Regions from separate parts of the Homo sapiens genome. Here region 2 is linked to region 1. The links come from fine-mapping of genetic effects on gene expression. A gene starts in region 1. The other region holds a variant in brackets. All regions are shown on one strand. Distances are between the middles of the regions.

Evidence for each region. PIP is the estimated chance that this variant, and not a neighbour inherited with it, causes the effect.
Region 2: its variant is fine-mapped to the expression of PLEKHG7 in tibial nerve (GTEx, PIP 0.96).

What each region holds. Positions count from the first base shown.
Region 1 is chr12:92,701,400-92,704,318 of GRCh38, forward strand. It overlaps PLEKHG7 (pleckstrin homology and RhoGEF domain containing G7), which reads left to right and starts at 1,590. Exons shown (of 17, transcript NM_001377329.1): 1 at 1,590-1,733. RefSeq lists an enhancer at 1,731-1,790.
Region 2 is chr12:92,741,104-92,744,022 of GRCh38, forward strand. It overlaps PLEKHG7 (pleckstrin homology and RhoGEF domain containing G7), which reads left to right. Exons shown (of 17, transcript NM_001377329.1): 9 at 388-489. Among named protein-coding and RNA genes, the nearest start is that of PLEKHG7, 40 kb to the left of the region's middle. The variant A/G (reference allele first, on the strand shown) is at 1,378.

The DNA of each region.
Region 1 (2,919 bases):
GAAGTTACAACCAGAGGTTGGAAGTTTTTGCATTGGGATCAAGTATTCCATTATCATTATCCCCTAGGAGAGACAGCTTTACAATCCCATGTGCGTGAGGGGATTGGTAGAAAAGAGTATGACCTTCCTTCCACAAACTAAAAGCTAAAAGACTTTATTCATTTTTTTCCTTCCCAAATTGAAGCAATTCACTTCTAGACATCCTTGGCAGGAGCTCAGAACTGTTTATGCAGGCTCCATGCAGGCAAAATATTTTTTGATATCCTGCTTTTGGTTGAGTCATGGTAATGTTGGCAATGGTGGTGAGGGCAGGAGATCAAGTCATTTTTCAAAGTTCTAAGTAAATGATGTTCTAGTAAGATCAATATGAGAGAATTAAAGACTAATATAAAGTTTATCACAAGGCCAACATCTATAAGTTAGACCTTTTTTTCTTTTCCTCTAAGGGCAGTGGTTCTCAAATTTTAACCCATGTAAGAATCACCTGGAAGTCTTGTTAAACACAGACTTCTGGCTGGGCACAGTGGCTCACACCTGTAATCCCAGCACTTTGGGAGGCCGAAGTGGGTGGACCACCTGAGGTCAGGAGTTCGGACAGCCTGGCCAATATGGTGAAACCCCGTCTGTACTAAAAATACAAAAGTTAGCCGGGCCCTGGTGGTGTGCACCTGTAATCTCAGCTACACAGGAAGCTGAGGTAGGAGAATCGCTTGAACCCAGGAGGTGGAGGTTGCAGTGAGCTGAGATCGTGCCACTGCACTCCAGCCTGAGTGACAGAGTGAGACCCTGTCTCAAAAAAAAACCACGGACTTCTGACCCCATCCCAGAGTTCCAGGGGTTGGAGAGCATGGAGGGGGAAGATTTTTCCTTTCTAACAAGTTCTCAAGTCATAGTGATACTGCTGGTCCAGGGACCCTACTTTAAGAACTACCGACCTCAGGGAACCTTCACAGTAAGTATCTGTAATGAGTCCAATCAATGAAAACTTCAGTGAATTAGACTTCATTAGAATTACTTCAACTTTGTTTTGGGAAAGTCTATAGACATTTTTGTTTAATGCTGCATACATATGCATTATCTCCACCTAGGCATCAAATAAATATTCTTTGGGGTACTGATCTAATGAGAATACTGGTAGATATAAATGCTCTTCCATTTGCATTTTAATTATTTGAAAACTAATGTTCACAAATTCACTCCCTGGTGCTCTAATCATTTCCTCTACTATTCAATGCTTATCAAAGCAAGTCATTAATAAAATAGATCAACACAAAATGTTTTATGATGTGAAGAAAGTAGAGTCCCAAAGAATGCATCTCACAACCTTAGAGAAAATAAATGAAATAGAAACCTAGAACTGCTTCACTGAACTATGAGTGATGATTTGTTGAATGCCTCAAGAGGAAGTAAAAAGTTACATTTGCATCATTTCTGTATTTGATCAGCCGTTGTTTACCTGACTTGTTCTTAGGCTGCCTTAGATTCTGAGCTGGCTTCCCTTTAGGCTTTTTCATAAACAAATAACTGGAAATGTCTCTAAGGAGGGGAGAGACCAGTTCCTCATTGCAGCTGGTAGCAAGGTTGCTTTCACTCAGCCAGGAGGACGCATTGTTACAGGTGTGGAACTTGTTGCTCCGAGCCCTCGCCTGGCAGCTCACTCTGGATCTGCGGGTTCTGAGGAGCCTCGGGACCCACCTGGGTGCAGTTGCCTTCAGGGACAGACCATCTTACAGGTATTAAAGGCAACATTCAGCTGCTTTCTGGGTTTCTCTCTTGCACTTTCCTTTTGTCCTATTGCTATCAGTTTCGCTTGTTTTGCTGATCTCTCCAGGTCTCATTAGAATTAGTGAATCATTAACCTGCAATGGTTTCATTTCTAGTACAGTGAGATGGCTTCCCCAACAGTGTGGGTGGGTGTTTGCTGGATTCTCAAAGCTTGGAAGGTCAAAGGTTGGTGAATTTTCTTTATGGTGACCATGTATTAATTTCCTCTTTTAAACATAAAGAAGAGTTAGCATGAATGGATTGACTTGTTAACTTTTGATTCTACCAGATCCACTGGGTGTAGTCATTTAGGGAAAGCTTCCCAGGAGCCTTAGCCATTATCTCATTTAATTTCTGCAACAGGCCTGTGAGGGAGGTTCTTTGATGTCCTCTTGGTAAATGCTGCATGGCAGTTGGCAGAGGAGAAGTGGCTTGTCCTAGGTCACACAGCCAATTGGCGGTGATACTGGAAGAGAAACCAGACCCATTTCTTCTGGTGCTTGAGCTCTTCCTGCCTTTCTGCAAACCACCTCCCTAAGCCCTGCTGTTTTTAAAGTTTCTCCATTTCCGCAGTGCATCATGTCGGCAGTTACTATTGCCTTGGTTCCAATATTTAAGACAGTGGCTAATAAATAATTCTTACCGATGTGAATCCTATTGGCCATAAATAACTTCCTACCAGCAGCTACACCCCTGTGTCTGAACGACTACAAAGGAAACCCAAAGCCGTATCCTAACCCCTCAAAAGAGGAGAGGAAAAGGCCAGAAGGACAGAGGGGAAACCCAAAGACTAAGAAATCTGATCTAACTATTATGCAAGTGCCTATGCAAATATACTGAATTCCTTTAACATTGTTGCTGCCTAGAACTTGGACAGTCTTCTAAAGGAGAAAAATAATAGAACGGCCCTGATTGTATGTATGTGTGAAAGTACCTATTGATTCAAAATTAGCTGGGTGGGGTGGTAAGCATCCATAGCCCCAACTACTCAGGAGCACTGCAGCATGAGGATTCTGTGAGGCTAGGAGTTTGAGGTTACAGTGCGATATGATCACACCTCTGCACTCAGCCTGGGCGACAGAGCCAGACTCCATCTCTAAAAAGAAAAAAAAAAAGAAAGAAAGTACCTATAGATTTGATGCTCAGCTCAGCATT
Region 2 (2,919 bases), 40 kb after region 1:
TTATGCCTTTCCCATAAATTGTAGATATTAGTTACCCTTTATTTGTCATTTTTCCATGGCTATTTTAAAAAGTAAACACATTCCTAAGATCTCCATCATCTTCATAAATGTTTATTTTCAAATGAATATCCTCTTCTCGCATACATTATAAATAAATAATATTTTTCCTCTTAAAAGTAAAGGAAGAGAGATAACAAGAATTTATTTATAAGAAATACTTATAAGAAAATATATATTGGAGAGTGGAGGAAATAAATCTTTGAATTTTTCTAGGAGATATATTTGAAATGGGAAACACCTGTAAGAATGATACTTGAAGTTCAACAAATGTTTATTCCTTAACCCTGGGTGTGTGCCTATTTTTGTTTTCTTTCTCTCTGTCCCTAGACAAGCCTTGGTTTTGTGAACAGTCTCTTTGGCATCATCAAGGACTATGTAGACGCTTCTGAGATTTCCTCATCACTGGATTTTATTTCCGTGCTCACAAAGGTAAACTCCTTCTGGGAGACCTCAGCTTCATGTAGTAAAATCACCCACCTCCCAGGACAGTTGTTTATACCCTACTTGATTTTAATTCTCCCTGGGAAAGTTCTACCTCCACTCTCCTACAAAGGAACTGTCCCTTTCTCTGCCAGTCAACATTTTCAAAAATAACTTGCAGATTCTGTTTTCCCATTGCCACATCTCCTGTGTGGGTTTTATTAACACAGAAATCTGCATGCATAGAAAAGCCATTTCCAATTCTGTTTTTTAAGTGGCTTCAATTTAAAGCAACATTCACGGCAATAGTTTAGTGTTTGCTAATTACGTAATTCAGTTGTTTTAACGAAAGTACCAATTTCTCAGAAAGAAACAGAATAAACCTTCAAATCCATCAACACCCTTGATCATATTTCTGTGGGTGAAATGAGAAAAGAGGAAAACCTGTACCCCGGGTTTGATCAATGTTATTTATTTCTTGAGTAGACATTTGGACATCCTCCCCTACTTTTCTTACTTTGAGGTTTTTAATCTAATTTTAATCTAATTTCATTTAGCAAGATTTGAATTTTTACACTCCACTTTTTAAGAGAAAAAGATAGATTGAGATTTACTGAGAACCTCCCAAGTGCTATGTATGGAGCCAATACCCTGTACACAATAATATGAAAAATTAAACAAGCGCCTTGCTTTTAAGAAATTGTAAGTCTTGTAGGGGAGAAATTAATCCAATAATGACACTAATGATTATATAATCAAAGTAAGATAAATGCTGGGGAAAAGGAGTAACATAAATATAATGAGTGTCCAACAAAGGAAACCTTGTAAGTTGGGATGCATAGTAGGGCAGTCACAGATAGGAAATGCTTCCTGGGGATATGATGCTTGAGAAGATAC[A/G]TGAAGAAGGAAGAGTTTTAACAAGGCAAAAATAAGCTGCAAGATCCTTTAGTGAACATTGAAAATGGGCTTAAGTAAGAAAATCTTTGGATATTTTTGTTTGTTGTTTAGTTTTTTTTTTTTTTTAGACAGTCTCACTCTGTTGCCCAGGTTGGAGTGCAGTAGTGCGACTTCAGCTCACTGCAACCTCCACCTCCCAGGTTCAAGAGATTCTCATGCCTCAGCCTCCCAAGTAGCTGGGATTAAAAGCATGCACCACCACGCCGAGTTAATTTTTGTATTTTTAGTAGAGATGGGGTTTCACCATGTTGGTCAGGCTGGTCTCGAATTCCCTCCCAAAGTGCTGGGATTAGAGGAGTGAGCCACCATACCTGGCCCAAATTTAGTTTTTAGTAAATATTCTGGAGAAATGTCAGCTTCTCATCAAAACATGTAAGTATACTTAGAGGCCACTAAAGAATGGGGTATTATTAGGCTCTTTACTAAGGGTCTATAATAAACCCACATATGAATGCCCCACGCTATGCTACAGATGTGCAATGATGGGCTATAAAAACTTCTCCTAAATGTAAAATGTTCTAATCAGCCAGGTGAGAGTCAGTTGTGCCACGGTAGCAAATGACCTCCAAATCTCAGTGGCTTGGTTCATGTCTCACTATGCTCTGCTTCCAAGTTGTCTTGACCCTGGGACCTCTGCTGATGAAATGGCCACTACCTGGAACATTACCATTTGGAGACCATGGCAAAGCACTCACTGGCTCTTTGAGTTTCTGCCCGAAACAACACATGGCATGTCTGCTCACATTTCATCAGTACATGGCCAAGCTTACCTTCAGTGGAGCAGCTACATATCATCCTCCCCAAGAAGAGCAAAGAGATAAACAGGAAACAGTATACCTGTGCCTCACAAGAAGCTCACCAGCTGGAAGATAGGGACGTCTTGTTATTCACATGTGAGCCATCCAATGAGATAGAAACTGAGGCTTAGAGAGGTTACATAATTTAGCTAAGATCATATAGCCAATGGGTGATAGAACTGGATATCTAAGCCTGACCATTAATGACTCTATTTTTGGTGGGGGAGGGGGTGGTGGGGGTGATCAGAGTCTTGCTCTGTCACCCAGTCTGGAGTGCGGTGGCACGATCTCAGCTCATGGCAACTTCTGCCTCTCAGGTTCAAGCAATTCTCCTGCCTCAGCCCCCCGAGTAGCTGGGACCAGAGGTGTGCGCCACCATGCCCAACTAATTTTTGTATTCTTAGTAGAAACGGGGTTTCATCATATTGGCCAGGCTGCTCTCGAACTCCTGACCTCAGGTGATCCACCTGCCTCGGTCTCCCAAAGTGCTGGGATTACAGGCGCAAGTCACCGTGCCCAGCCCCATTAATGACTCTTAATCTTGGCTTCTAACCAGTTACCTCCTAGTTCCAACATTTCTCAAGCATCTCAGTGTCCATGAGAAGACCCTCTCTTTACCTCCAAGTCCTTTTCAAGGCCCAGCTATCAATATTCCCCTCCAAAATAAACTCACATCATCTTTCAA